Linked DNA regions of Homo sapiens: all the other regions are linked to region 2. Evidence: fine-mapped expression QTL. A gene starts in region 2. Each other region holds a variant in brackets. All regions are shown on one strand. Distances are between the middles of the regions.

What was found. PIP is the estimated chance that this variant, and not a neighbour inherited with it, causes the effect. A credible set is the group of variants that fine-mapping cannot tell apart.
Region 1: its variant is the best candidate, but not a certain one, in a credible set for the expression of KYNU in whole blood (INTERVAL, PIP 0.67).
Region 3: its variant is the best candidate, but not a certain one, in a credible set for the expression of KYNU in whole blood (TOPMed, PIP 0.58).

Annotation. Positions count from the first base shown.
Region 1 is chr2:142,558,368-142,569,539 of GRCh38, forward strand. No RefSeq gene overlaps it. Among named protein-coding and RNA genes, the nearest start is that of KYNU, 310 kb to the right of the region's middle. The variant G/C (reference allele first, on the strand shown) is at 4,459.
Region 2 is chr2:142,873,354-142,884,525 of GRCh38, forward strand. It overlaps KYNU (kynureninase), which reads left to right and starts at 4,311. Exons shown (of 14, transcript NM_003937.3): 1 at 4,311-4,383. RefSeq lists a silencer at 10,486-10,535.
Region 3 is chr2:143,031,059-143,042,230 of GRCh38, forward strand. It overlaps KYNU (kynureninase), which reads left to right. Exons shown (of 14, transcript NM_003937.3): 12 at 2,178-2,263; 13 at 9,370-9,600; 14 at 10,989-11,172. The coding sequence ends at 11,114. Among named protein-coding and RNA genes, the nearest start is that of ARHGAP15, 93 kb to the right of the region's middle. The variant T/C (reference allele first, on the strand shown) is at 6,081.

The sequences.
Region 1 (11,172 bases), 310 kb before region 2:
TTAAAACAAAACCTACTTTGGTCCACTTGTGGACAGAAAATGTTTATTATTATAATTTCATAAAGATCATTCTGTCTTCCAAAGTTATTTGATTGTCACCAACATGCAAGGAAATGCCATCATTCAGTTTACCTCACCTTACCTACTGGAAATCATAGGAAGTGGTTAGTGAACTTAATTCATTTTTATTGTGATTGGTGGTAACCAAGTTTTGAGAGAAGTCAGCATGCCTAAACTGTTTAATGCTAAGTTAATAACTGAAGTGATGTTTCTATAAGTAAATTGACAGTAAGGAAACAATTTCAGTTTTCTCACGTAGAGGTAATGCTTTGTTCAAACACTTGGAGACTTTTGCTGAAAAGATCCAGGGAAACAGAAAGCATTTCTATGTGATACTTTTGTGCTTATCTAAAACTAATATTAAGAAATTTAAATAAAATGAAATGAATGTTTATATTTAATTTGAATTTTGGCTCTTTCGGAAACAAATTCTAGTCAAACTTTTAGCAAAGGATATGGTCCTGAATAATTTAAAATACTCATTCATCCCTAATAATCATGGGTATTTCTAAATAGTAAAAAGTGGGAAATAATGTTAAAATATTCTACAGAGCTGTGTATGTGTATCCACATTTCCTTTCATTACTTATATTTCTGGTAAATTACATTTGAAAAACCACCAGTGAAAAGACAATGAAATTTCTAATTCAACCTCTTCTGTAATATATTCTGACAAATAAAATGTTCTAGCCCTTAGGCCTAAATTTTCACTATTAATTATTGAGTTTATTTAAATTCCCATATTAATAGACTACTGTTTTAAGAGAGAATAGTCATCTGCTTGAGTAGAATCACAAACTTTTTTTTCCATTTAATAAATTTGGTACAATGCACAAGTCATTATTCACCATGCTAATTGCCCTGCAGATGAAAACCTGACTTGTATAGAGATAATTACAAGTGTGCAAATTTCTAGTAATTTTCAGCATTATATCTAATTCATTTCATTAAAACTTTATTGAGGACCTACTATGGGCTTAATACTTCTAGTTGATACTTAGAATCTGAAAAAGAAGTCTAGAGCAAGGACTATGCTCTAAATAAGATTACAATACTCTAATGGGAAAAAAACCATAAATGTCAGATTAATTCTATATACTCCATTCTATCATGTCTCTGAGCTTTTTAACACAATACAAGTCAATAATGTACCTAGCCATCAATGTATATTTTAAATGCCACTATCTTTATACCTGCAATGATTCATTCAGCTAGACATAGACTTTTTTGTACTATATTTTCCCCCATAGGATTATTCTTGACCTGAATGTCAACAATTCTAATATGGGTAGTTATTTTGATATTTTATGATTTAAGAGCAATCATAATTAATGATAATTAATATATAGTCCTTATATGTCAGCTATTTTTGAGTGATTTGCATATATTAATGCATTCATTCTCCCAACAATTTTATTTGGTAAGTTCCATTATTACACATTTTGCAGAGGGAGAAAGTTAAGTATAGAAAAGTTAAACATCCTCCCAAAGTTCCTAATCCTAGAGGATGGTACACTCAGTCTTTGAAGCCCAAAGGTTTGGCTCCTGAAACTATATCCTTAAGTATCACTGCCTGTTCTGACTACAAAGTAATGAGTTAATTCTTGGCACAACCCAAATCTGATATAAATCAATGATGCATCTTACAACAATTGGTTTGTTAGCTACAGGGAAATGTGGTATTTTTCTAATATATTTTTAATACTTAAGTATAATCCAGCTTAAACTTCCCTACTGGACAAAAAATTATTTGTGGACTCTAGAGCATCTTACAAAATTGACAGGCTCTGCTGATGTTAATGTTTAATAAATATCTATCATATAAGTGAATAAGAAATAATCATGCTAATTATATAATAGCTTGTATATAAAATGTCAAAAGGGAAGTCAATATTACACAAATTTTGAAAAGTAAATGATGACTAATTAGGCCTGATTTTTAAAGGAAAAACGTTAAGAGGAGAACTCATACTTGAACTGGACTTTGGAGAATTTTTTGGTTTGAATACACAAATAGGATAGGAGAAGGCATTTCTCAAAGGAGAAATGTGTAAGGAAAGATTCAGGGGTAAAATTACATATTCAGGACTAAATGAACATAACAATTTTGGTAAAGTAAAGGATTCCATTATGGAGATAAACTAGAAGATAAAGACAGAGATAAAGCTGGGAGAAGATGGGTGCAGTCACTGAGAGGCAAGTAAGGAGTTTACAGTCCGTCAAAGCTGATAGAAGGTACCTACACAAAGTGAGGTTTTAGGATTATTAATCTAGCAGCAATTTGAAAGAAAGATAAGTTCGACAGTGATTCACCACCTAGAATAGTAAAATAAGTAGCGAGCTAATGAAAACCTGTAAAAAAATGATGACTGTAACAAGACAAAAGAAGTGACCAATTTAAAAAAAGAAATATACATTTTAAAAGCTAACTATCCTTAGCAATAAGTAGACATAAAGGAAAAATGAAGAATCAAGAACTGAAGACAGTTCAGTCAGCAAAGAAGAATGTAGAGAAATAAAATGATATTTATAGTCACATGCCCTGGGTCCAATTCTCAATTACTAACTGGAATTTTCAGTAATTTTTTAATGTTCCTTTGCCTTCCTTGCTTCAAATGTAAAATGGGAACAAAAATGATATTTACTTCATCTGGTGGTTATGAAAACTAGGTAAGATTGAGGGAGGATAGTAGGGTCTGGAGGCAGGGAACTTCAGGCCAATTGATGCTGAATCAAGGAAAAACACCAAGGTCTCAGGGCAGGGAATCTGAGGCCAATTCGTGCTGACTTCCCAAAATTGGATCAAAAGGAAAACACTTGGGTTTGAGGAATGGAACCCAAGGCCAGTTAATACAAACTTCCTAAAGCTAAACCAAAAGGAAAAAAAAAAACCCTACACTGAATAACAAAGGATCAAAGACTACTCTCCCTACAGCACGTCCCCTTCCTCCACATCTCAGATGGAAATGGAGAGTGCCTTGGACTGGCCCTTGGCCAAGCAGGGACAATATCTTCATATGTACAGGGCACCAATTCACCTCAGCCTTCAGTTAGCCACAGACCAAATCCTTCATCCACATAAGAGGTAACCAATAGGAACCTCAAAATGAGTACCTAAAATCCAGAGAACTTTGTAACTGTGATGGAGGCAGGGGCCATCTGGAGCAGCCACCACTGGGATGGCCAGCTGCAGCAAGGGAGGGGCAGCCAAGACTGTGTACTCCATGGAGCCAGTGGGAACCAGGAACCGGAGGGAGCCCTCCTCCCTACAAAGTTGGCGGGGCAGGAGCTCGGTGCTCTCAGGCACAGATGCAGCTGTCCAGCCATGGCTTTGGACCCAGGCATCCATGTGCTCTCAGGGGCCCAGAAAGTCCCCTGCCCCTGCAGATTCAAAAGTGCCTATTCCCACTCCCTGGCCTCTCCCTGCTCCTGGTGCCCACTCTGGTGCAGAGAGAAGTTGTGGCTGAGCCTGGGCTCTGTTGTAACATGGCCAGGTGTGTGCTCACTTCGGGTGGCACTGACACATCAGCCCCGTGCCTCCTTGGTCCCCTCCAGACTTTGGGTGCCAACGAGCTTGGGAGGGAGGCCAGGAGGCTGAGGGCAGCATGGCTCAGGCCAACAGGTGTCCCTCAGCACAGACAGCCTGGCCACTGTGGACAGCATGTTGAGGATGGCAGGAGGCAGACAGGTTCCTAGGTGGGAAAGGGAGAGTCCCCAGTGAAGCTCCACCTTCAAGCCAGAGACTGCCTGAAGTCTGGGTGCCAGGCTGCCAGTTTCAGGTGGAGTCTGTGACCCAGAGTGAGGATTTATGGTGCCTTTTCCTGGGCCACCCATGGCTGCTAATTGACCAATCAGCACACTCTTCCTGCCTTCTGAGCCCATAAAATCCATGGACTCAGCCAGCTTCAGATGCTCCTTGGGACGACCTGCTTGTCGATAGGAGCTACCCACTTCATGTCTTCAGAGAGCTGTTCTGTCACTCAATAAAGCTCCTCTCTGCCTTGGTCACCCTCCAGTTGTCTGTGTAACCTCATTCTTCCTGGATGCAGGACAAGAACTTGGGATCCACCAAACAGCAGGAGCCAAAGAAGCTGTAATATATTCCTGGCTGGCTTATGGAGCTTCAGACAGTGACACACTCCCAGACTGTGGGAATGAAGAATGGTGATACTTCAGGGGGTGCAGACCTTGGGATTCCCTGAGCCACAGATGCAGTAACACTATAGCTCTCTTGTCCTCTGCTGCCACCAGGCAGCCACCCAACACAACAGGAGAAATGAGACTGAAAGAGCAGTAACAGAAATGAGCTGAAACACACCCCCACAAAACATTCCCTTTCTCTGCTTGCCACACTGTGGGTGATGAGGAGAGAAGACCTGCAGACCTTCTGGAAGCAGA[G/C]CTGGGGGCTCCCTAAGCCAGGGCTGTGACATGCTGTAATACCCTTTTGAGGCTCTGCAGTTCCTGACATCTCTGAACAATCTGGCACCATCACGTCCCCCTTGTCCAGGTGCTGGTCCCTGCAGCAGAAGCTGCTTGAGGTATGTCTGGTTCAGTTGCAACCTAGCACAGAGCCAGCACCTGTGTCAGTGCCTGTGCTGCCCGCCCTGCCGCAGCATCCAGCGTGCCTGGTTGTGCAAGGTGGCTAGACCCCATGCTCACTCGCTCACATACCCTTTGCTGCTCTGCACCTGGCTTGTCCGCTTGTCCTTGGCAGGCATGGGATCTGGGCCAGTAGCTCAAGCTGAGTGCAGCCTTCCTGGCTGAGTGGGTAGAACGAGCCCAGTGGGCACAAGGAAAACCCAAGCAGAGGTGGCACCGGCCACAGAAGTTTCTAACTGGTGAAGACACCCTAAGGCAGGGCTGTGACAACTGTGCCTTTGAGCTGCTTGTTCAGGCCCACTCCCACCCTGTAGAGTGCTTTCTCACTTTAATAAATTCCCCTTTTGCTGCTTTGTTCCTGTGTTTCATTTCTTTGTTACTTTGATTGTGCATTTTGTCCAATTCTTTGTTCAAAACAGGAAGGACCTGGACATCTCACACTCAGTGCCCTCCTTCCGGTAACAAGATGATACGTGTAAACTCCTTAACATAGTGTCTAGCAGGTAGGGAACACTCAACAGCTACTAACATATATCTTACTATTAACTTAGTATTAAATTACTAAAAAAATTCCTAATATTGTTCTACTGATTTGAGCCTAAATGACTCAAAAACATGACAGCTAAATGGGCTTCTAAATGAAGGCTGTTTAGAGCGAAAGATAATATTCTAAATATTTTTATTTTCAAATAATTATTAAGGAACTTGGAAATCACACCAAGAAGTTAAGAACAAGCAATAAGAAGAGAATTTTTAAATAAATCTTTTTGGGTTGAGCTGAAATAAAAGCATTGGTCATTATTCCTACGATGGCTCAGAAAGCACAGTCAAAAGGATCTTCTCAAATTCTGTAAGCCAGACCATTTTCTGCCTTTAGCGTGCTACCCTAAATCTGGATTGTTTTTGTGGAGACTAACAACCTGACAATGTGGTATATAATTTCAGTACAGGACATATGATCCTTGAAGCCAAGGGAATTTCAGAATATATACATCAATACATTATAGGAGACAAACATAAGAAATATTCACTGGACTGTAAGCTCCATGGGAGCAGACACTGTGTCTGTTCTATTCAAAATTAGATACCCCAAAAGATGCCTGCACTCAACAAGCAGATTTTGAGTGAATAATATTTTTTTCTTTTTTTATTGTATTATTATTATACTTTAAGTTTTAGGGTACATGTGCAAAATGTGCAGGTTAGTTACATATGTATATATGTGCCATGCTGGTGTGCTGCACCCATTAACTCGTCATTTAGCATTAGGTATCTCTCATTTTTGAGTTAAGAAAAATGTGACTACTATTTATTATAAGCTTACACAAGGCTGCCCATCTCGTCAGAAGTGGAGCCAAAAGATGATTCTACAGCTGCCTAATCAAAAGCCTGTTTTGTCTTTCCACATATGTGTCAGTAACTGAGTTCAAAATTTTAGTGCTTTTAATGATGCTCAGGGGCGAAAATGGATTGGTTGATAAGGCTAATATTCAACTTTTATTCATTAACTAGAACATGTTCTTTGGTTATGAGAAGTAACATCAAAAATTTTTTTAATGAAAAGTTAATATTTCTGAGGACCTTAAATTATGTTACAGAAATACTAATATTATGAGTATCAAAATGTAATTTAAAATCTGAAGCCTCCAACTAGAGAAGTTTTGCCTTGATCTTTTCAGTTTTGCAGTACTTTTCCCTAATCTCTTACTTTTATGCAATTAATGCAAAATATTTTTGGAAGGTGGGAGATACTTATTTGCTTGTATTAAATTCAGAGTCACTTTCTATTCATCTTTGAGATAAGTAGAACTATCTGTCTGAAATTCAGTCCTAATGAATTACACTCTACTTATGGGCTTAGTGAAATTAACTCCATTTATATTACATCCTTCTGGAAATTGAAGGCAAATTGGGAATAGCATAAAGCTGCAGTAATATTGTTCAATTTTTTGATAGGCATCAGAATTTTCTATAGACTCTTTAGAATTAGTGTAGATAAATATCAGAAATTCAGTCTTAAATACACATTGAATGGAAAGACATCTGAAAGTTCAAATAGGTAAAATAAGTTGTTTTACTTATTTTTACATCTGTTAGATTTTTGAAACTGCTTCTAAAAGTCCATGTATGTTAGTTTTCTGGAGCAACAGAAATGCATGTTTTAGCCTCTCCCTATACTCCACAATGTTTTCTCTATCTAAGTTGATGCTGGAAACAAAATATACATTTTAAATATATCAATTTATAATCTTTTTTCCTAAAACAATGTTACATCTTTTTATCTAGCACTTTTGATATTAGCTTAACAACACTTCATTTTCCATAACAGTTTTTTAGACATGACTTGCAACCACATTTTATGCTTTGAATATTAGCCAAATGTCTGAGTTCTTTTGTTTGTTGGTTGGTTTGTTTTAATTTTATTCAGCAACCCTAGTCTTCCATTTAAAGGAACACAAAGTGACAATTAAATGTGGATAGCATGATTCTTAAGTGTTTCTGTACTCTTACTCATTGTTTTGCCTTACATTATTTTATTGATAAATATACTGACCTTAAGGAACAACTTATCTTTACAGCCTCATCAGTTTAAAAGCTACATTTGATTTAATTAATAGGGTGAGTTTATGGGAAAAGCTTTTATCGATGGGCATTCGTTTAAGATATCTTGGCCTTTTGAAAGAGATGCACTATGATAATTGGTCTAAGATCATGTTAGAGAGGGCAGGTCACTTTATATTTTCTCCCAACTAATAGAGAAGTCAGGTGAGGTTGTTTCCTGACACAGCTACTATTTCATTGTTTTGGCTGATATTACTGACCCCAGAAAGCTATTTCCAGTATTACTTGGGCCCAGTAGATATAGTCATTGGCAAGCACCATGCAAATATGGAAAACAAGTTGTTCTATTCATATCAGAACATCAATTTACCATTAATTTTCCACTCTTGATTACATACATTGCATCTATCAAAGCCATCATATTGTTATCTGCAAACAAGACAGGCAATTCTGGTTTGGTGACCAAGGCTAATTATTATTGTGGATGTAAGGGGAAGCTGTATTTTAGACCATGTTTTGACACGGTAAGGCTTTGGTCAAATAATCTTATTCAGTAATTTTCAACTTTAACTGAATACTATTGACTCATTTGAACATTAAAACATAAATAAGTTAAAACAAATCAGAATGCTGAAGACTGTATCCCACTCCCAGAGATGTATCCTTCTATTTTTTTGGTATATCAAATTTTCCAACTATAATCTTAACATACTTGTATTTTTTTTGCAAATAGGCAGTAGCAAATTTGACCCAGAGTTGAAAAGTCCAGAAGAAATATTTTATGTAATTCATATATTTTTAAATTAAAAATGCATTTCCCTTCTTTTCAGTGACATTGAGTCTGTAGATATTTTTTACTTTTCTTAACACTTTTTAAAAATTTTTTTCTTTAATGAAGTACATCTAATCTAATCTAAAAAACAAAATGGAGTCAAATCCAATCCTAAATGTGGTATTTTTAGAGGACAGACCCCTAAATATTTTACCTTTTCAGTTAAAATAGACTTCCAACTGAACATGTAAATACATCCAAATTGTTGCCCCAAAGTAAGAAAGTTTGATTAGTTGGTTACTGTGTAATATAAACCTGTTACTATTATTCCATGGAATTTTGAGTCTCTTAATATTCAAGTCTCATTTGGGAGGAATTATCAGACTGCAATATCTTCCATTTTCAACATAGTAGAGAAAATATAACCTGATTATTATAGCTATATTATTGCTGTGTTTGACAGAGAAAGAGAGTATAGTCTTTGACCCTACGGATCTTAAAACCTCCTGAGAGCAGACCCAGCTCTTGTTGCTCCAGAAAATGAAATAAAAATCTTTGATTATTCAGATAATTAATTTAAATTATATAAACAAAAGGTCAAATCTAGGGATTTTTAGTCTCAGAAAAATGGAAAAGATACCAAAGGGAAGCTGACATAAAAATGAGGAAGAAAGCTTTCTAACTAAAATTCTCATCCCTTCGAAGCCGTAGTATTTGAAGCTGTGAATATCATCCTGACCTCGTGATTTGTGGCTGTACTATTTCCCCCCCTCTCTATTCAATTAGGAAAATTTGCGCTGGTCATTCATCTCGATCTGTGTTACGGGGGCTCCGAACCCTCTTGAATTCTTGCTGAATTTATACATAAGTCATTGAGGTTGACCAAGGAAGACAGACCAATGAGTACATTCTCAATGTTTATACCAAGGAAATTAATTTAAGATATAAGATCAAACATATAGGGTTGAATTTGTTGGACATTCAGAAGCTATGAAAATCTCATCCCAAAAAGCAAAAGAAGGAACTAAACCTAGACACATTCCATCTTTACCTGATAGAGAAATTTAAGATTGCCTTGAGACGAAAATGTCCTTGCCTCTTTGCTATTTGTCTATATCTTTTTATTCCTTATTGTATCTGGGGTTCATTGTATCAATTACCATCAAGCTATTTTTTTTCTTTATATTTCACATTATCATAAATTCAGGAGACTGGAGAAGACCTTGAGAGTCTCAGTTTTATCTCTCCTTCTCCTCAGACAGTATTCTTTCTTCACAATCATAGGCTGCAAAAAATGTTCAGAGTACTCAGTGAAGTGTTCCACATTTGTTAGCACCAGATGATGTCACTCTCCTTGTTTCTATAGCTTTTTATAGAAACATTTCATCGTTTGAGATCTTCTTGGGAATCTTCCTGTCTTTTGATAAAAATTTATGTTGTGCCACATGAACTCATAGATTTATTACTTGACTTTATTTCACTTTAAATGCATTATTTTATTTTTATCCTTTTGAATATGTATTTGCTTGGTACTTTGTTTTTAATCAATTTGCCTTTATATTTTTCCTCCTTACTTCACTCAAAAACTAGAATCTAAAAGCCTCTTATCTATTAATATTTGAGAATCTAGAGATTACCTTTTATTTCAGAATAAAAAGAAGCTTAAATTGTCTGTATCTATATTATCTACTATCTAGCTATCTATCTCCAAATTTTGTATTTTGTTCTTTGGTTTTATTGTCATCACTTCTTTTGCCTGTCCAATTTAATTAATACTATTAATTCCCTACTATGATAGATAACATAACACTGCAGGTTGAAATCATAGAACAATTAACCCCCAGGAACATTGCAGTCATGGCCCCAGGTTTCAATATGCCACAAACACTCATCAATTTAATTTGAAATTAATTTGGCTTTTGCTAGTTATTCGAAAACACCAACAGTTGTCGATTCCCTTCAGTGAACTAAATGTGAATAGTTATTATCCTGCAAGCATTTCTCCTGAGGTAAAGAAAATGTGAGCTCTTATCATAGATACCCTCACCACCCTTGCCCACAGCCTGCTGAAGACCTGACCCTAAATGTATTTGAAAGATATTTTACCATCCTTTCTAGTAGATAAGAACTTAAATTTAATTACAGTAAGTCCAAAATTATAGCTTTTGGGAAAGAGTCACATACTAAATCCAGGTTTATAGATAACCATAAAATTGAAAAAGTTGGAACTTAGACCTAACTTAGAACTGACTTTTAATACCAAGTTATTGAGCAGTCCATTTAGATTAAGGGAAAAAGTAAAATATTTTACTCATGGATTGCCATCTCTTTTTGAAGCTTGGTGGCTTATTTTTAGGTATCTTTTTTTCCTTCTAAACCTACTATAAACCTTAGTGTAAAATATTTTACATGTATAATTGGCCAAGATAATAAAAATGCTTAAATGCAATTCAGAGTTATTTATCAAATGCACTGTTCCTAATCTAATGTTCCACAGATTATAAATAAGTAAAGTGTAGTCAGCCAGTTTTTTGTTTTGTTTTGTTTTCTATCTTGTTAAATGTGAACACCACAATAAAGGCCTATTATATTTTGTTCTTATTTATGTTATTAAAATTTTATTTTAATATACTTTTTTATTTCTGAAGTGTGAATTCTTTTACATTCCAATGGATAATAATATTCTGTGGGAAATAACAAGTAAAACTGAAGAAACATTTACTAGAAAGTGAAACAAAATTCTGTAAGATCATTTTCAGAACAAAAACTAAGGCAAATTTTTGACTTTCAATCAAATGGTTTATTTTTAATTTTCTATCTGCTGGACCTAGCCTTTTTGAAAATTAAATTTTGAACATTGTTCTTCTGCCTTTCCTTTTATTGTCACTTTCTTTCATCTCAATTTCATCTCAATTATTACCAAAACAAACACTAATTGTGTGAATTATGATATACCTGAAATTATTCCCAGTGCTTTCATACCTTATTTACTATTCATGCCTACTGATATGGTTTGGCTGAATCTTCACCCAAATTTTATCTTGAATTGTAGCTCCTATAACCCCCACATGTTGGGAAAGGGACCCTGTGGGAGGTAATTGAATCATGGGGGCGGGTTTTTCCTGGTCTGTTCTCATGATAGTCGATAAGTCTCATGAGATCTGATGGTTTTATAAAGG
Region 2 (11,172 bases):
TAATATTAAGAAAAAAAATTTTCTGTTGTAAGTTGTTATGGTAAAAGAGGGCATGTACATCGTACCTTGTACTATAGAAAGAAACCCTGGTATATGAAAGCTTTGTCTTTAAATGGAGATTTTGTAATGCCTGTTCCCGTTTTCCAGAGTCATCATGACATCAATGATGTTGTTATGTGGTCAATGATGTCAATATGACTCAAGTCACTTTGGGTTTTTCATGTTTTACAGGAAACTCAGAAATTCCTCATGTAAACAATCAGACAATTGAGCAAATTGACCTGCAAACACATATAACAGAAAACTACTAAAGTTCTTCTGCTACCGCACATGATTTAGATTGCCTTCTATACCTTTGTGAGTTTAACAGTGAGGGAAAAGTTCTGATCTAGGAAAAAGGGAATGGGTTATAGGAATTTTAGATTCTAAATAAATTTTAATCACCAACTGGCAAAATGTCATTTGCTTATAACGAGCCCTTGCATTTTCCTCTGAAAAACTGAAAATACAACATATAGAGAGGGTAGGAAAGTCCCCGCCCATTACTGAGAAATTTTTCTAATAACCAGACTATGTATCTCACAGGAAGGAAAAAGTAGATTGTCTAAACATAGCCTAGTGATTTATTAGCATATTAATTTGCTTTGCCTTCCCTGTTGTAGGAGGGAGAGGGAGAAGAAAGGAGAGTATGGGTGAGGAAATGAGAGTGCAGTGGAGGGAAGAGAGAAAAAGGGAAAAAGAAAAGGAGAGAGAGAGAGAGAGGAAGAGAAGGCAAGAGGAGGGCATTAGAGAAAGAGGAGAGAAGGCAAGAAGAGGGAAAGAGGAGGGGGCAGCAGGAAAGGAAGGAGAGGGGAAGGAAGGACAGATAAGGGGAGAGGGAAGAAGAGAGGAGAGATAATTTTGTGTGTGCTCTGTTTTTTATATTTTCCCCTACCCATATAGAGAAGATGCTGTAGGTTCCTTGGCAGAAATTGCTTAAGGCAAATCTCATGACTGGCATTTGAGAAAGTTTTTGTTATGTTATATTGGTTATCCCCAAGGGGAAGTTTGGAAAGAGTGATTGGGTGTGCAAGGCCCCAGGGATATGGTGAGGGGAAAGGAGAGGCAGGAGGGCAGAGAGAAGGAAGCTAATCTGCCCCTCCCATCTGGGAACTTCCCAACACCCTGTGTAAAGAAGAAAGGAGAGTTCCAATAATGACTCAGAGTAAATTTTCCTCCTAAGAAGTCACATGTGAGCTCTGCGTTTTTATTTAATTAAGAAAAATAGCGTATTGTGAAATTTTCTGTTTACCCAAGTTTGAGACTGCAGTTTTTTTTATTAGTTCTTTCCTAACTTGTCTCTGTCTTTAATCTCATTACTCATTTCACATACTGAGCACCCAGCATTAGAGTGTTATGATCAGCCTGGTAGTGCAGCCTTGGATTCTTACATAAAGAGTTTGCTGATCTGAATTTAATTTAGTTAATGATCCAGCAAGCACCCATTTTAGTCTACTAAATGCTAGATACTGGCCTAACTATGGCGAAAATGCCCTGAAGAATAAGAATAAAGTTCATGGTTCAAGATTACCTTTTGAGAGGACAAAACTTTCCCATATTTCCAATAATCAATTTTTAGAAAATAAACTAGATCTTAATTAAAAAAAAACAAATTAACCAATTCAGTAGATATTTATTTAGCTCCATACATAGGTAGAGCTCTGAGGAGGATAAAATTAGTCTTTTCCTCTCGGAAACATATCATTTTATAAGCAGGATGCCATACCTGGAAATTAATAGACAACTCGGAATTGTACAACAGCTTATTCTGGCAACACTTTTTTTCTTCCTGTTTCCAAAAGGAAGGAATGGTATCTCACAGTGTTCTCTGTTTAACCTTGACTGCTGGCCCTGTAGCGGGTCTTGCTTTCACCCCTCCCCGCATGACTCGTTCTCTCATAATTCCCTTCTGTATTTAGCGGCCTATGTTATTATACAAGTTTTGCTCCCCATTACATCCCTGGCATTTCACTTTGTGCTTGGTACAGAGAATATGCTTAATACTTTTCTTGAATGAATGAAAGTGTCAACTGAAGAATGACAGGTTCATACATTTGGAAAGGAGAGCTTCATTTCACATAAAGGATTGCAGCCTGCAGGGTGATCATTCTGACCTCTGAAAAGTATAGCCTCTAATCAGAAGCTGGAAACAGACATTTTGAGGGAGGAGCAAAGGAAACAGAAATTTATGTTGAGCAGGGTAGCTGAATATATATATTCAATAAGCTATAGGGGAAGCCATGAATATTTGTGAAAGGAGAAATGTGCACATGCACAATGGAGTTTCATGCTTCTCCATGGGATCCGTGTTCAAAAAATGACAGCATTAATACAATCTGAGGGGGCAGTTTTCAGCCCAATGTGAAGCAGAGGACATGAAAACCTTTACTGCACATTCTCCATAGACTAGCCAGAAACATTCCATGATCAGTATTTTCTTTTTGTTCCAAACCACAAAAGAGAGGGATAACACCAGGTGATGGTTGATGTCATTGGTGTAATCTTTTGAAATGACTGGTTTCTTTTTAGCCATAGGGCAGAAAGCCTAATCATAGTTAGTGATGGAGCGGGTATGTGTTCCACTTCCTATCCTGTCATGGCCAAAAACTTAGTTTTCAAGTTTACTCTGGGATCCCCTTGGCCAAGAGCGTGTCCGTTCAGTTAATCTAGGGGCTTGGGATTTTATTTTTATTCCTCAAATGTAACAAATTTAAAGAAAGAAAGAAATTTATAAAACATAAGAAATAGAAGTATAGCTTAGACCTCCAAGCAAGTTCTTTAAAGGTGACAAGTTAAACAGTAGTTTTTAAGATAATATTTTGATGAAATTTTTAATCATATTATTACAAGATTTTAGAAGAAGCAAGATCTTGTGAAAACAAAACCTTAATGTCCATATCTAGCTCTCTAAATCTATAGTCAGTCTTTAAAAGAGTGACACAAAAATGACACAGATCCGCCCTCTGGTTCGCTCCCCATATATTAGAGCCTGGTAATCTTCCAAAGTTTTTACAGCATGAGGCATACACAGAATAGATGCAAAAAAAGTACACCTTCTGAAATTTCCTGAATGGATTCAAACTTTTACTATTCTAAGTTAATCAATTGGTAGTCTACTTACTTTATAGGATTATTGTAAGGATAGGATCAATGAAGTGAAATATATTTTATTTTCACTGGTCAATTACTCGTATTAAAGCAATTTCATGCACTTTATCTCCCTCTCTTGGAAACTGGAGAGTAGTACTTTTTGTCTGGTTACTTAAGATTAAAAAAAAGACAATATGTCACTTTTGACTTGAGTGTCATGGTATCTATGGCCTTCAACCTGCATGGTTTTATCGTTTCAGTAATCTTGGGAGGAAGGTATTATTAAGTTCATTTGATAAATAGGAGACTGAGCCTCCACAAGGGTTAAGTGAATTGCTCAGGGTTATACAATGAACACTTGATAGAAATGATTAAATGACACTTTACTTGATTTGTTGTGGGTTACTAAATAAAGCATAGGTGTGCATAAGTCATTCAATTATTCAAGCACATTCTTCATCCCTAGTCCTAATATCGAAAGTCTTTGCTCTTAGTTTTTATAACTACAAGGATATTCATCAAAAGACCCAAGCTCAGGAATAAGCCTAAAGAGGTAGTCAGACTAGAACAAAAGACAATTCACAGACTTAAATGAATAATTTGCATTAATGAAGTTTGCCAGGCTAGTTTCCACTTGAATCTTCAGATCTTTCTTCCTTCATTGTCTTGTTAACTGTCCAGATTTATTACCTAGGAGTTTTTGAAAACTCACATATTAGGCAATAGAGTGTATTCTGGAATTGAGAGCCTATTTTAAACTTTTGACTAAAAAGTTTACCCATTAAATGTCATAGATTCAACCATCAGACTGAAAATCCTCAGTGTATTTGAAGGAGGGTATTGTCTCAAAAATCCAGAGCTCAAAGTGAAGAAGAAAGGCAAAATTTGGAATTTAGCTCTAAGACCAACTCATCAGTTCAGGGGTCAGAGATTTATATAGTTAAAGGACAAGTGTGTGTTTACCTGAGTTTAAAGAGCAAAGTTGCCTCTGGAAAGAAGCCCTCACTGGAGGCTCTGGCATTTGAAATGGTGGGCAGGAGCACATGTTGCTTAAATTTCTGACAGTGGCTGGAGATTACCGATTGGTTAGGGGAGAGGAAGTAAAGTAAAATATTTATAAATTCTCCACTGGGTGGAGTCTGAGCAGTTCTTTGAATTTCTCACCCTAAGATCTGGCCTGTACATTTTCAAGGAATTCTTGAGAGGTTCTTGGAGAGATTCTGGGAGCCAAACACTCCATTGGGATCCTAGCTGGTAAGCTTGAGGCGCTGATAAAAACTCTCTACCCTAATGTTTACTCCATGTTTTTTCCAAATGAAACTTCTGTCAGCTAGAATCCTTGTCATAGTGTTTTAGAGGTTTTTTTCTGCTACTCTCTTCTTTTTTTATATATATTCTTTTTGTAAATAAAAATGGTATGACCTTCCTAAAGGCCCCACCTTTAGAAATGGGTTAAATGAAAAGATCTTTACTAATGTAATAGAAAAGAACTGATGAACATAGTGCACTGAATATGGTTACATTTGACAAACCAAAGTTAGTCCTGTTCTTATTTGAGTTTAAGCGGTAAGATTAGGTCAAACTCCAGACGAGGGAAAGATATTCTTAAACAGATTTTAAGTCCTCTGTTTTCTGGTAACTTTAATTGTCTTATGCTGCTAGTAGTCATATTAAATATTTATTTAGAGAAGTGAAAATGCCTACTCTTGAACAGAGTTTCTTCCCCTTTCATTTTATGAAACCTAAGAAAAGAAAGTTGATACACTTTTTAAAAATATACTAGATTTTCTTTTTTCCTTTCTGCTTTTATTTTGAGGCCAGTGGGGTGTTATTTAGTAGTAACACTGAAGCAAATGTATTGATTTTCTTAACGTGTTCAGCAAGTAATTCATATCCTAGATATGAAATATACACTCGTAGCAGAGTAATGTTACCCATTTCTCAATGATATGCTTAAAGAATCTTGCTCAATATGCATATTGTTTTTCCTTTTTTCTTTACTAATGAAAAACTACACGCTTTCTCAACATATTTTTAAGTCAGGTTCTAAACTTTGAACTCCTATGTACAATTTGCTTATTTCAGGCATGAATGTGAAACTGTGTAAAGATTAACTACCAGACACTCAGTCATTTATTTAACTATTTAGCCCTAAATCAGTGGGTGACTAGGAGATTCTGAATTCTGTGATTTCGTTAAAATCAATCAGTTTTTAATTATTATACAAGCTTTTTACTTTAAAGTTGTAGCTGTCTAAATAAAATTGTGAAAGCACAATTTCCAAACCTAAATCGAAGGCACATTGATGCTGTCCATCAGAAGGTATTGATAATTTAAAAAAATATTACAAACTATCTTTTATCTTTTTATAAAGGACCTAATGTCATTTGAGCTTAACCATAATCCTTTGAAGAAAGTAAAATTTAACTTTAAATAACATTGACATACAGAGCAGTTAGGTGATTTGTCTGAGACCATATGGTATGTATGTCCCCCGTCTTGATAAAATTAACACTAAATATGTAACATTTGAAAATTTGTAAAATATGTAAAAGTTGAAGTTTTTAAAAGTTTGGATTTAAGTTCTTCCTTTCAGAATATGAGCATGTCACTTTATTTGCAAACTAAACATGGCATAACATTATGGCTTGTGAACACTAATTGTCTTAGCTGCTGGGGTGAATGCAGAATTAAGCAGCAATTAGTATGAGTGAATAAATTGCATCCTTAGAGTGAGTGCACTATGCTATTCTGGGAACTAAAGACTATATTTGAGACCATGCGAAGTTGTGCAAGTGGTGGAGTAGGGCAGGGTGCAGTCATTTGGAAGACTATGCCCATCAGGTATCTCAAGGTACCCCAGATGTGACAGGCCCAGGAGCGGAACCAGCCACTTTAACTTTTGCCTGGCTGAAACTGGACTGGGAAGGATGGATTAAAAAGGTAAATCAATTCATACGTAGCTTGTGGTCCTTTGCAGCTTAAGTGTAGGACTGAAAAAAGAAGCCAAAGAAAAAGGGAATGAGCTGAAGAAATACACACACGTACACACACACATCAGGAAGCAACAGGCAAGGAAAAATAAAGTGAGAGGTTCAAGGCTTCGAGGAGGAATTGAGCTCTGTGCATTCCATTCATGGGCTTTGCCAAAGACCAGCACAATGGACTCAGCATCTCAGGCATGGTTAAGTACCCTACTGTGCACTCTGCTATCCTTTTAGTCCACTGGTTTCTACTCTGTCTGTGCCAGGTTTTCATCTCAATATAGAGGAAAAGGATTCTGATGCCTCAGGATTATTACAAGCATTAAATAAGATACAGATAGAATGACGCTAATGAGTATCATTTTTAAAATAAGGAAAGTTGAATTTTATTCAGAATCTGTTGGTAACAAACTAATCTCTTTATTTAAGTAACCCCACTTAGAGTTTAAAGTCACCTCCAATCAACTCAAAGGGCTGACCTCCCAAAGAAAGTCTCAAATATAAGGCAAGCTCTCTTGATTCTGAATTTCATTAGAAATGTTTGTCTAAGTCTTTCTCATATGGTCAGAATGAGAGAGGGTGCCCTTCTAGTAATATGTCATTATGTCAAATAATTCATCAACCAATTTTGTTTATTCTCTCGAACTGCCACTTTGGCGGCAGGGGTACTCTGTCTAAATGAGATGTCTATAAAGATAAATTAAACATGATTCAGGCCCCCAGGTAGAGTTCAGTTCAGTAGGGTAGAACAGCAACTCAGTCCAGCTACCATCAGTAATATGTTTGTAGTAAGACTAATCTGATAGTAAGGCAGAAAAACATCTCATGGAATTTTAGGAATAGCCAAGAAGATGGGTCCCCTGGAGACTTGCACATAGCATGTTGCATGAAGGATTCAGTGACTTGCAAGATGGGCTTGTCTTGTCACCTTTTCAGGAGACATAGCTGTTCAATCCCTTGCCATTGTGTAACTAAGTGACTCTTACTTGCTGCTGGAATCACTTCATGCTTTTCATGCTTTAACAATCAGTGGTTCTGTTTTACTTTGAAAAATGAGTCATTCTATGACAGTATTCCTCCTAGACCCTAGCATTTCATAGCTTCTATCTATGATTATTTTAAATTCTAGCTCCTGTATCTAACTGAATGAATAAGCACATCCCACAGCTCAGATTCCTGAAAGAATTTGATTATGTACTCAGCTAAACATCATCACTGTTTGGTTAGAGCTTTTATAGCAAATAATTCACAGATCTTTGATGAAACTACATTGTCTTTAGTGGGTAAGTGTCCAACAGAGGTCTAATAAACTATGACCAGGCAATTGATAATGCCAAGCGGTAGAGACACAGTGATCTCTCTTCAAAATGCAGTTTCCTTCATCAGAAAGCTATGTGTGGGGAGCCATTTAGAATCAAGTTTCAGGCATAGCAAATGTTTTTGATCTTTCCTATCCATACATATGTCCAAATAAATATAGTACCTGGCAGAATGTATTATTATCGTAAGTAAAGTACATAAGTGTGCTCTTAATTGTTATTGGTGTTCAGAGGAAGACGGGCTACTTTTGCCTGAGACATCCTAACAGGCCTCTTGAAAAAAGCATTGGAGCATTAGGTCTTTGAAGGTTGGCTAGAATCCAAACAAGTTGAAGGGGAGCAAAACATTTTAGGCAAAGGAAATGGCATGAGAAAAATCACAGAAATAGAAAATTTCATGTGGAGGACAAATAATACTTATGGTCAGATATTGAAAGCACCATCCATCAATGTTGAAATCCTACACTTTTGTACAGAACCATGGATTGAAGCAGTTAGGAGTCACAACTGATATCAAAGTAAAAAACATGCAATGGTGAACCTTGGTATCTTTGTCTAGGAATATAAAGAATGGCTTATCAGTGGAGACCATCGACAGTTGAGAAAAGAAGAAGCCCAAAAAGTACAAGAATGAAAATCGAGAGTGTAAGAAGAATGTCTGTTTTACTGGCATTATCTAACACTCAGATATGCAACTCTTTATTGCCAAACACTGTGTGTGTTAGTTAAGGTAAAAGGTGAAGGGAGGCAGAAGAATGGAGATTGAATTGAATTCTAGAGCTTTAGTTCTGTGTGAGTTTGGGCCCCCAGAAGTTCTAGACATTAAGTACAGTCTGAATTGAGAAATATTAAACATATCTTGTGATCCAATATTCCCCTAAGTTATACACTCAAATATCCAATGACCAGCTTGACATTTCTACCTGCATGTTCAATACTTATTTGAAACTTAATATATCCTAAATATAATTTTTTTTTAAACAGTCATGCTCTGTTGCCCAGGATGGAGTGCAGTGGCACAATTAGCTCACTGCAACCTCAGACTGCTGGTCTCCTACCCCATCCTCCTCGGTAGCTAGGACCACAGGTGCATGCCAGTGCCAGCACACCTGGCTTTTCTTTTCTTTTTTCTTTTTTTTTTTTTTTTTTTGTAGAGATGACATCTTGCTACGTTGTCCAGACTGGTCTCAAACTCCTGGCTTCAAGCAATCCCCTGCCTCGGCCTCCCAGTGCTGGGGTAACAGGTGTGAACCACCACAACCAGCCTGCTAAACTGAATTCCAATTTCCCTCCTCAAAATTTTTCTTCCCCAGGTATTTTTATTTCATCATATTTCACATATTTGCCCATATCCCAAAGCTAGAAGAAAGCTCCTTTCCTGTCCTCACTAGAAATAATCTATCCACCAGTCCTATCTACTTTTTCTCCAAACTACATCATAAATCCACACTCTTCTCTCTACCTTTGCCCTCATCACCAAATTTAATTCACCACCGTTTCTCTCCTGAACTACTGTGTTATCCTTAATCGGTCTCCCTTTTCAACTTTTTTTTTTTAATTATACTTTAAGTTCTAGGGTACATGTGCACAACGTGTAGGTTTGTTATATATGTATATATGTGCCATGTCAGTTTGCTGCACCCATTAACTCGTCATTTACATTACATATTTCTCCTACTGCTATTCCTCCCCCATCCCCCCACTCCACGACAGGCTCCGGTGTGTGATGTTCCCCGCCCTGTGTCCAAGTGTTCTCATTGTTCAGTTCCCACCTGTGAGTGAGAACATGTGGTGTTTGGTTTTCTGTCCTTGCGATAGTTTGCTCAGAATGATGGTTTCCAGCTTCATCCATGTTGCTGCAAAGGACATGAACTCATCCTTTTTTATGGCTGCATAGTATTCCATGGTGTATATGTGTCACATTTTCTTAATCCAGTCTATCATTGATGGACATTTGGGTTGGTTCCAAGTGTTTGCTATTGTGAATAGTGCTGCAATAAACATACATGTGCATGTGTCTTTATAGCAGCATGATTTATAATCCTTTGGGTATATATGCAGTAATGGGATTGCTGGGTCAAATGGTATTTCTGCTTCTAGATCCTTGAGGAATCACCACACTGTCTTCCACAATGGTTGAACTAGTTTACAGTCCCACCAACAGTGTAAAAGTGTTCCTGTTTCTCCACATCCTCTCCAGCACCTGTTGTTTCCTGACTTTTTAATGATCGCCATTCTAACCGACATGAGGTGGTATCTCACTGTTTTTAAAACTCATTACAGAGCTAAGTGGTTTTTATTTAATGTAAATTTATATCACATTACTTTTCTACTCAAAACTCCCCAATGGTATCCCATTAAACTTATAAAATTTCAGTTTTCTTTCTGGCTCCCAAATTTCTTTTTTTTTTTTTTTTTTTTTTTTTTTGAGATGGAGTCTCGCTGTCGCCCAGGCTGGAGTGCAGTGGTGCAACCTCGGCTCACTGCAGGCTCCACCCCCCGGGGTTCACGCCATTCTCCTGCCTCAGCTTCCCGAGTAGCTGGGACTACAGGCGCCCGCCACCTCGCACGGCTAATTTTTTTTTTGTATTTTTAGTAGAGACGGGGCTTCACCGTGTTAGCCAGGACGGTCTTGATCTCCTGACCTCGTGATCCGCCTGCCTCTGCCTCCCAAAGTGCTGGGATTACAGGCGTGAGCCACTGCGCCTGGCCCCAAATTTCTTTATGACTACCTTCTGCCTTTGTTTTTTGCATATCACAGTTTGTCATTCCTCCTTCCCTCTTTTTCCCTCCCTAGTGCATTTAGTTGAACAAGCCAAGCCCATTTCCACCCCAGGAACTTTGCACTTGTTGCCAGGTTCCTCCAGGTCCAGGTCTTCACATGATGTAGACATTCTCATCTATCACTTTCTCAGAAGGATGAACATGACCCTTTAAGGTAGCTCTTCCACACTCCAGTGACTCTGTCCCATTACTCTGCTGTTTCCTCATAGCTCTTAAGTCTGAAACTACATTGTTTTTCTATTCTTCATTTACAAATAAATTGTACAAGGGTTGGCACTTATGCACTCTCTCATACACTGCTGTCCTGCCATTACTGGGAGTCACATAATAGGTACCAAATAAATACTTGTTGAAAGAGTAAATAAATGTATAAATTAAATGAAATCAGCAAAACTATATGTAAATCTAACTAGCCCAAAGAAATTTTATTTCCTGTAATATCATTTTGTTCAAAAAACCAAACTTAGGAGAGGAGAAATATAAACAAACAAGCTTGGGTGAAGTTTAAAACGTATGTGATTAAATCTCCATTGTCATTTATCCTTTTCCAAAAAGTGGGAAATGTTGCATGATGATTAAACAGAATACAATGTGGTTTCAAGAAACATCACACAATCCTGTTTGTTCTAAGATAATAAATATGGTGTTGAAAGGAAGAAATTTATAATTACTAACAGCAGCAGGTGGATGAATCTCTTTGGTATTCATATGAACAAAATACTAACATTTTAAGTAAAGTTACCTTTTCCATGAATATGGTTTTCACTCACAAAAAAGGATTTTGTTCAGGTTCAATATGTCCATAGTTTTAAAACCATGATCCAAGAACCACTGGGGGTGGGACAGTGGAGTTGGGATATGGAGAAAGACAAGCTAAGTGGGATGCTGCTTTTCGACACTTTGACAAAGATCATCCTTACCATTATCTCCTCATAAGATACCTAGAGGAAAAGGTG
Region 3 (11,172 bases), 160 kb after region 2:
AACAATTTTAAGTCAAACCATTGTTAAGTCAGGGACCATTGGTATGCAGATTTGTAGCAACCAAATTGCAAAATGGGATATTCCAGTCAAGTCAGGATACCTGTATTTTACCTTGGCTGCTAAAATAATTAGATCTGTTATTATACCAGTTATTTAAATTCTTTGAGATGGGTTTTCTTATTTGGAAATAAAGGAATTGAATTTGATCAGGGGTAGCAAACTTTTTCTGTGAAAGGCCAGATAGGAAATATTTTAAGCTTTCTAGGCTATACAGTCTCTGTGGCAAATACTCAATTCCGTCATTGTGGTGGTAAAGCAGCCATAGGTGATACATAAGTGAAAGATTGTGGCTATGTTTTCATAAAACTGTATTTTAAAAAGCAGGGCCTGGCACGAAGACTCACGCCTGTAATCCCAGCACTTTGGGAGGCAAGGCAGATGGATCAATTGATCACAGGAGTTTGAGACCAGCCTGGGTGACATAGTGAGACCTTGTCTCTATAAAAACTACAGAAATTAGCCAGGAGTGGTGGTATGCATCTGTAGTCCCAGCTACTTGGGAGCCTGAGGCGGGAAGATCACCTGAGCCCGGGGAGGTCAAGGCTGCAGTGAGCCATGATTGAGCCACTGCACTCAGGCCTGGGTAACAGAGTGATACTCTGTCTCAAAAACAAAAACAAAACTAGTGGGTCAAATTTGGCCCACAGGCCATATGGCCATATATTAGTCTGTTTTCACACTGCTATAAAGATACCACCTGAGACTCAGTAATTTGAAAAGGAAAGAATTTTAATTGACTCACAGTTTCACATGGCTGGGGAAGTCTCAGGAAACTTACAATCATGTCAGAAGGCAAAGGGAAAGCAAGGCACATATGAGGTGATGGGAGGTGAGAGAGAGAGAGAAAGAGAGAGAGTGCATAAAAACTGCTGTTTTTGGCCGGGCGTGGTGGCTCACGCCTGTAATCCCAGCACTTTGGGAGGCCAAGGCGGGCGGATCACGAGGTCAGGAGATCGAGACCACCCTGGCTAACACTGTGAAACCCCATCTCTACTAAAAATACAAAAAAATTAGCTGGGCGTGGTGACAGGCACCCGTAGTCCCAGCTACTCGGAAAGCTGAGGCAGGAGAATGGCGTGAACCCGTGAGGCGGAGGTTTCAGTGAGCCAAGATCGCGCCACTGCATTCCAGCCTGGGCAACAGAGCGAGACTCCATCTCAAAAACAAAAACAAAAAAAAAAAACAAAACAAAAAAAACTGCTGTTTTTAAAACCATCAGATCTTGTGAGAACTCCTTCACTATCATGAGAACGGCATGCAGGAAACTGCCCCCATGATCCATTCACCTCCCATCAGGTCCCACCCTCGACATATGGGGATTACAATTCAAGATGAGATTTGGGTGGGGACTCAGAGCCAAACCATATCACCATAGTTTGCTTAATCCTGGATTTGATAACTATAAAAAAGTCATCAAGTTTTAACATTCTTTTAGTCAGTCATAGTGTTAACTTATCTCTGACTAGCTATCTTAACCCTATTGAATTTAACTTGCTACAGTTCAATCTGCTTAATTCTAATTAGTAGAGCATCTGTTATTAATTTACCTTTTTTATATACTTAGGCAGATCTTTTTTTTAAAGCTCCCTCTATTGTGTGTGTGTGTGTGTGTGTGTGTGTGTGTCTGTGTGTGTTCTGTAAGAGAAACCACTTGACCTAACAATCCTAGAGCTAAAAGTCAGCTTCATAGGTCATTTCATTCATATTTCTGCCTTTGGGAGACATTACAATTACATGCCACTAAAAGCTGATGCTCTCTCTCATTGACATGGTTTCATAATAGAATAGCAAATGTTGAGCAGAATAAGGAATCCTGGCTTGGGAATAGGAAGGCAGAGAATGAGATCCAGAAAAACTTCCAGAAGAGGTCATTTTTACCTTGGGTCTAAGATTTCTGGTGTTCTGCTAAGAAGTTGGGGACAAGGGAGGTGGGAACTGCTGGTAAACGGGAAATAACGTCGATATTTTAGTTCCATGGAGCTTATCTTAAATATCTCAGAAATCCTACTTAGGAAGAAAAGTTTAAGTCTTGCTCTTTTACTCTCCAGTACTCTAGTATCTTTATGGACACTTTTAAAGTTACCTTCTATGATAATGACATGATATTAATTTCTCAGAACTGCAGTTAATCCCTGGGGTCTGTGGATTCCGAATTTCAAATCCTCCCATTTTGTTGGTCTGTTCCTTGCATGCTAGTTTAGAGGTAAGTGATGTGTGTTTCAACCTTCCCACATCTTTGCGTTTTTTCTTGATCTGTTTGTGACAATTCATAGTACTTTCTCTGCTACACAGCAAGATGATACATGTGCACTGTGCATGAACAAGGGACAGAAGGCAGCATTCCCCTTTAGGACAGTGATGATGTGGTGAGGGTCTCCCTTCATTCATGTCACCAGCCCCCAGCACAATGCTTGGCACATTGTTGGCACATAGTAAATATTAAATGGAACTCTTTTGGGGAGATACGTTTTTTACTCCACTTAGAATCTGTTTAAACATGAATAAGTTATTTAACCTTCTCTTGGCCTCTCTTTATACCAAATAAGCATGCAATATTTAGTTCTTCATAAATTCGCTCATTCAACATAAATTTATTGAGAAAATATTGTGTGCCTGATGTGATTACTAGGGACTGTACTTTTTCTAGTTCATTGTAGGTGAATGAACTGACCAAGTACCATGTGACAAAGCTAGGAAAGACTTACTTGAAGGAAAAAAGAATAATCAGAGTAAACCAAAGATTAAATAAGGTTGTCTCATAAGGTAGGGTGGTTTTATGATTTTTTTAAATTGGGACTTCTATGCCATTATGTCCATTTATAGTCTCCACTATCACTGACTCAATATTTTCCTTTAAATTAATTTATATTTTTATTTAGGTAAATTTAGTCTCACCCTGAAATGATAAATATACATAACAAGAAAATGAAATTGTGATTCCTTAGATACTATTATTTAGTGTTAGACTAAATGTGGCCAAGTAAAAATATATAGGTTATATAGTATAAAATTCATATATAATGTAAATGTATAAATATTTACATAAATAATGTAAATATATAAAGTAATTGTATATTTTGTATACCTATATTTAAGTAAAATATATTTTAAGTAAATGTGCATATATATTTCTAATAGAAGTTTTACATAGAACTATTCAAACAAGGATTTGAAATTTTTTCATGTCTCCTTCTAAAATCATGTAGTTTATGATATTTTGGCAAAAACTTATAGAGGATTTCAGCATCAAATGAGTGACAGGATGAAGATTCAAAATTCCTTCTAATCTAAAATTGCATAATTCTGTGAACACTTACAGCAGTTTCTCATTCTGGCCACTGGATGGCAGCATCAAGTTCCTCTGTTTTTATTAAATTTCACCACTGGATAGTGATCATCACCTCATTTCATTCTGTCTCAATTTAAAGCGCACCTACTCAGTTTAACCACTAGATGGAGCTTGTGTTGTTTTCACTTCATGGCAGAATTTTTCTTTAACTTGGAAAATAGACACAGTAACGAGATTTTTCAGCCAGTGATATATATTTTTGACAGTTTTTTGAGTAAAAATCTGCTTAGTAAATCAGATAATGATATTTGAGTTGTTTTTATAGTATCCATTCAGATAAATATTTTGTTTAAACATTTTAAAACAAAATAAAGTTTCTGCATTCCTTGCAAGTTTGTATCAGCGAGATGTGTGACAATATCAGAAGCACCAGGACATACCTTAGGAAGAGCTTGTACCTAAAGTAATTTCCTCTGGTGCCCATATCTTTGCAAATAACTTCTCAGACGTACCTGGAAATTTCCTTTTAGACGCCTTCACTTTGGCATACTTTCTGCAGTGGACTGGCTTTTCTAGTAGTATTCACCCTTCTCTTGTGGGAAAGGAAGCACATTCCTATTCTTCCAGCCACTGTTTTCCTACCACACTGTATTAGAGTCACCTAGACAAAGTTTTTATTTTCAGTTATAATCTGAGAACTGATTTATTTTTTCTTTTTAATATCTAAACTTAAACCTCAGCCTCCTGAGTAGCTGGGACTACAGGTGTGCACCGCTACACCAGGCTAATTTTTGTAGTTTTTTGTACAGATAAAGTCTTACTATGTTACCCAGTCAATATCTAAACTTAAAACCCTAAAAGCCACAAGAAGAATGATATGCATTTCTCTGGATCTTCTAATCACTTACATATTTCCCTTGAGCCTCTTTCTGCTCATTTCACTGCTGAGACTATGTTCTAACCAAAATTATCTTTAGTTAATCAAGCCTTATGTTGGTAAAAGTGTTTTTTCAAAATTCTTTCCTACTGTAAATTGCAAAATTTTTGAATTACAAACTAATGCATTGAATTGCTTCCCTTTCTCTGTTAAAATGTCTTATTTTCTAGACATTTATGGGTTTCTCATGTGAGTAAACATCAGTGAATTAACTATGCTTCTATTAATACTTACCTTCCTTTAAGTTTTATTTATTTATATTTAGAGATGAGGTCTTGCTCTGTTGTTCAGACTGGAATGCAATAGTACGATCATGGCTTAGCATGGCCTCAAACTCCTGGGGTTCAAGTGATCCTCCTGCCCCCACCTTCCAGGTAACTGGGACTGCAGGACTGCACCACCACACTTGGCTGATTATTATTATTTATTTATTTTATTTCTTTATTTTTGAGACAGGGTCCCCTTCTGTCACTCCTAGAGTGCAGTGATGGGATCTCAGCTCACTGCAACCTCTGCCTCCTGGACTCAGTTGATCTTCCCACCTCAGCCTCCACAGCAGCTGGGACTACAAGAGTGCACCACCATGCCCGACTAATTTTTGTATTTTTTTATAGAGACAGGATTTTGCCATGTTGCCCAGGCTGATCTTGAACTACTGGCTGCAAGTGGTCCTCCTGAGTAGCTAAGACTACAGGGCATGCCACTGTGCTCAGCTTATTTTTAAATTTTTTTAGAGATGAGGTCTGGCTATGTTGTCCACGTTAATCTGGAACTCCTGGCCTCAAGCGATTCTCCTGCCTCAGTCTCCTGTTTGAAATGTTTGTTTTTCAGTGCTATAAAGAAATAGCACTTGAACGCAAATTTAATTTATTTAGTAAGGCCATTTTTACTTCCTGCAGAGAGGATACACTCGCCAGCAGTTTTGCCATGAGAGTACACCGAACAAAGGAGACAGGGTCATTTATAACCTGACGTGTCCACCCTACTGCTGTGTCCAGTTCCAATGGCTGGAATGGGACCTCCCATTCTGTATTTGTCCCGATTGGCTAGTAACTTAGAACTTTTTAAAAGACGTAAAGGTAGAGGGTAACAAAGGAAGGAGGAAGTAACTTGTGGAATGCTAAGAAAGGTAAAAACACTTTTAAATAAGGAAGAGGAACAGGCTGTGACCTAATGCTGCTTGGACCAGTATAAGCATGCCAGGGCAAATATTTAGGCTAAATTGTGGGAGCTAAAAACATAAAGTATATTGATTTATTTATTACAGCTAGCAGATATTTAAGAATGTTAGCACAGGTCTTTGAATAAATTTTGCTTCTAAGAGAAGTTACTATTTATTCCTAATTAGACGGGAAGGAAAGTCTTTGAAGAGGAACCTCTACTTTACTTTTTATACTCCTAAGCAGTTGGGATGACAGACGTGAACCACTGCACTCAGCCACCTTATCTTTTTAAACCAGTTTATTCCATTTTAGGAGATAGGTGGTTGAAGTTTCAATAAACGAAAGAAGTAAATGCATGAATCAAACTGCCTCTTTGTTGTCTCTACTTTTAAGAAATATTCAACACAGTCAAATACGAACTGGAGGAGAGATTCTATACTTAAGAATCAATCACATATAAATAAGACCTTAGATTTTTAATGCAATGACTTTTTAAAAAGATATTAATATGGCTTTTTTTAATAAATACATGTGTATATGGTTGATTGATATAAAAAATAGCACATTGTAATCAGTTTCAAACTGTCCTTTTGTTTATATTTTTTTATCTGAATCATTTATACAATAGTTC[T/C]TAAAATATTGTGGATCAAGGGATGAAGCCTGAGGCCAGGAACCTGGTGGCAAGTACTCTCTCCCTCAATGGACACGAAGTGTGACCTTACACAAGCAACAACTCCCTTTGGATGTATTTGCCTTATTTTTTAAAGTAAGATGTTTGGACAAGATTATTTTGGAAGTCTCCTCACTTTCCAAAATACTTAAATTTAAACAATACGTATATTATATTTTGAGGGTTCATATTTATGTGTAGCGATAGGTAGACAATATTTAGTCCCTTTCAGTATTCTGAATTCATAATGAAATAAATGGCTTCAAAATACAAAGTTAGAGCATTCAATTAAAATACATGGCGAGTCAGAAGACTCAACAAAGAAATGTACTATACGTTTCCTTTCAAATTTCCTAGAGAGACAGTTTTAAGAATTTAAGAGAAAAATATGACAATTGAAAACATCACACCAAACTTATTTTTCCTGTTTAAACTTATCTAGCTTTTCAAGCTTTGTGTTCATTTTGTCAGTAAGAAAAAAAATACAAGTAGTTGAAACTCTGCAAAGTATTATCTTCTAAGCTGAATATTTTTCAAACCACAGTTTTCATTTTTTCTAATTTAAAAAAATTATTTTCTCAATATTGAAAGCATAACATTTATGAGAAGCAAAAAAGAAAATAGAATATTTATGTTACTTCCCTATTATTCTCTCTCAATATTTTTATGTGAAGCTCAGAATAGACTTTTACCCTCTGTGAGATGAATTTAAAAGTGCCTCAGAATGCAGTTGCCCTTATTGTGGTTGTAATGGAGAAAGTAAGTTTTATATTTAAAAGTTATTTTATGATTTAAAGAGTGTTAACATTCCACAGTATATTAAGATGGAAGCTATTTGTCATACCAAAAAAATTGGTTTCTAGTTATCAAGAGAAAGCTTCAAGAGCAACATTCCCTACGCCCCTTTAAAAACTAAATGCAAGTAATATTCCTCCAAGTTTTACTAACCTATGCACACAAATGAACTATCATTAAATGTGATACTTCACATATCGATTGCCCCCATGTACATATTAGGGCACCCATAGCATAACCACAAAATTTCCTAGAATTATTTATTATTTAGAATTTCTTAGAATATTATTAAGCTCCAGAGAGAATCTTGGAAAGATTCCTCACATAGTCTTTTTATTCCAAACTTCACAGCCAAACCAGCTGTGGCCCGTGCCTTGCCTGTCCCTGCTCCTCTGGGAGAATTTTGATTCTTGTCCCTTGACCCAAAACTTGGCAGTGTTCCCTTGAGTCTTCATTATGCCAAGTCTACCTACATTTGCTTTGCCCAAGAAAATGAAGGAGATGCCTCCTACCAAGTTCTGTGTAACCTGGGTCATCTGAATCTTGGAGCACTATTATTTGTACTGCAGATCTCTCTCGGGAGCTTATGAAGCCAAGATATCAGCCTCTACTTGAGCTGTCTCTGTAGACTTCAGACATTGTCTGGGAGTTGTGGTTGAAGAGAGAGACAGGCACCATTCTGTCCTGTTTTTCCTCTCTTGCTTAGATATCATTTACCTTCAGTACAGTTCCCAGCCTCTCCTTCAGCCAATCCATAGCCTCTATACAGTATAGTTCCAGGAAATCTATGGCTGAATGGTTTGAGTTTTATTAGAGTGCCTGCCTACACATGCCACGTGTACATACAGGAATAACTGTTTTCATAGACTTGATAAAGTCTCAATATCACCAAATGACCCTATCTTTGCTCTTGATATCTTTGCTCATGACACAGAAAAGGAACATTAAGTGGCAGGCCAGTGCATCACGCTCTGTTTGCAGTTCATTTAGTTCTTATACATAGGATATATTTTTACACTCTACTTGACCTTAAGAGATAAGCCAGAAAAGCACATCTGTTCTGACCCCTAATATTCCAACACCAGTTATTGTGTGCCCTTGTCACTCATCTTAATATAAGACATCTCAGCCCACAAATGGCAGTATTTTCACACCAGTGCTAGAGTTTAGAAGGGGGGAAATGAGAGAAACCAAGCCCAAATGCTTCAGTAAAAATAAATGCATTATCTAATATTATTTGCTTTCCTCTCTGAGGAAACTTAGCATTATTATTTAACTGCTTGTTTTCTTATTGTTAAACTGGAAGAGATTTGGGAGTCAGTAAAGCAGTTATAAATATCACCAGTAACACTGCTTTACACATTTGCACATGTTTAGATCATATTGCACTTTTTTGAGGATAAACAAACTTTACATCAAAGTTGGAAAAGTCTTCTTGATTATGATTTCAAAAAGTGGTTTTGGGGAAAAGCTTACATTGTATGATATTTAAATCCATTTATTAAGGTATGTTTTACTTGATTATACTAACTTAATTTAAAATAATTTTGAAGGTATGTTCCCGGACCAAATTGAGGGTTGGGCTGCTATTTCTCATGGCCCAATAACAAGATGCAGATGAACAGGGGAGGAAGAGAGTTTTTATTTCTGTAACTGGTTACAGGGAGAAGGCCTGGAAATTATCACCAGACCAACTCAAAATTACAAAGTTTTACAGGTGTAAGTGTGCATTCATCTGAAGACATAAGTGATTAACTTCTTTTAATCTACAACTAAGGTCTGAGTCCTGAAGACCTTCCTCTGGAGCCTCAGTAAATTTACTTAATCTAAATGGGTCCAGGTGCTGGAGTGATTACCCTTATCTTGTCTTCTGCTAAATCACTGAAGTTTGAGGAGTTCCTTTAGACCTTCAATAAACTTGTTTGTAGAGGCCTGGAGAGTTTCTTCACAACCACAGTAAAACTTGTTTAATCCTGAATGGGTCCTGTTAAGAATTCCTTCATTATTCTGTCATGCTTTAAGGCCCAGGGAAAGCCTAGGCAAAACTCTTGATAGGCTTTTGTTCATCCCAGCCTTTGTATAAGGGCACTGACTTTTTTAGTTTTTAATATTTAATGTAACCACTCGGTCAGTACTGAAACAGTTGTGATGGAGGCCTGCATTAGTGAAACCTGGCCTGCCACAGGTACATGATATTAACTTACATTTTCTTCCTTTGCAAGTTTTATTTAAGTGACATTTGTACAATTTTTCTGTCATGGAAATTTTACCTTCAGTATTTAATAGCAAAGCATTTAAAGGAGGGCATGATTTTACACAAAAAGATTATGTAAAGGGAGATATTTATTGGAAAGATCAAATATGGGCATTTCCTTTTTATGCATGATTTACTCTTAATTTTTGCTTCTTTGTAAATCAATAAGACACTTTAATCTGATTGTTTCTCATTCCACAGATCTTTAAGCAAGCGACAATGAAGGCATTGCGGAAAAAATCTGTTTTGCTAACTGGCTATCTGGAATACCTGATCAAGCATAACTATGGCAAAGATAAAGCAGCAACCAAGAAACCAGTTGTGAACATAATTACTCCGTCTCATGTAGAGGAGCGGGGGTGCCAGCTAACAATAACATTTTCTGTTCCAAACAAAGATGTTTTCCAAGAACTAGAAAAAAGAGGAGTGGTTGTAAGTATGTCTTGCTTTGCTACCAGATTTTGTCTATGGGCCGCATGTTAGGGATAAAATTTGGACTCTTTGGTTTATTCATTGTTGCATGTTATTTCACATCAGTCAGTCAATTAAGGATAAATTAAGTGCCAACTAAGCCCTCAGCACTGTGCTAACTGAAAGGCATAGAGATCTGTCGTTTCTGATAAAAGAGAAGATACCACAAACTTGGCTTATAGGAATAGTTTTTTGTAACTTACTCATTCTTTTCATAACAGTTTGGGCAGAAAAAAGTTATTATTTCATCATACTCAGTCAGGACATTGTTTTCTCTAGTCTGTACTACAATTCATTTATTGGATGAATGGAATTAAAGATCATACCAATTTATTGAAGGGTTAAAAAAGAAAGTCTTATTTAGTCGCTTGATCAAATTAAGTTATTTTCAACCTTGTCACTTCTGTCAAAAAAGATATATATACACTTCTCAGGAGTGGTAACATTGCAAGGAATAATTTTTTTTTAACCCTTCAGCCTATATGACCTTCTTGGTCTCTTGAAGAGAACTAATAAATGTGAACTGAGTAATTTCAGGGAAAAAAGATAATGTATCTACTTCCAATGATTATGTAATTAAGGCATTGCTTGGCTCATGTTTACCTGTAGGAGAGGTTACTCCCAGATGCTGGAGACACAAGTCAGAAATTCAAGTTTCTAAATCAAACTCTGCTGTCGTCAAACTCTGTCCTCTTTGGAAAGTTCATTAGGATCTATTGGCTTGAAATTTTCATCCGTATTTGGGGTATAAAATAAATTACCTCCAAGAGTTGTGATTGGATTGAAATGGGACAGCACACATAAACTATATACTATATTGTCTAGCCTATAGCAGGTGTTTTCTAAAGTTAACCATAGTGATCTCTAGGCATGTCAAATTATCTGGTGCTACTTCAGGACCTACAATGTAGCCCACTTCTTATTTGTGAGATCAAAGATTAGAGAATTAAGTTCAAGGATAATTTACTAAAACTCTCCAGACCCTAATGAGGTTTTCATTCACTTAAATTCACCCAAGAATTCCAGTCCTTCCATGGGGTCCCCACGGGAAAAAAAAAACAAAATGTATTTATGGTCTATTAAATGCTTAAGGAAGATAGTTGCTGAATAGATTTCAGGAATCTATCTTGGCTATTTATGCACCAATCCATTCTTATTTCTTAAATTATTATCAAGAGAAAAGTTTCATAAAACAGAAAAACACCATGTTTTAAAGTAAAAAAATTTTGCATATATATTAATTTTTAGGGAAATCATTATGAAAGTGCTTTACATAAGTTTATCTGGAATGTAGATTTTCAACGTGTGAATAATGCTAACATTATTGTGGCTTTATTTTTTCCCCACAGTGTGACAAGCGGAATCCAAATGGCATTCGAGTGGCTCCAGTTCCTCTCTATAATTCTTTCCATGATGTTTATAAATTTACCAATCTGCTCACTTCTATACTTGACTCTGCAGAAACAAAAAATTAGCAGTGTTTTCTAGAACAACTTAAGCAAATTATACTGAAAGCTGCTGTGGTTATTTCAG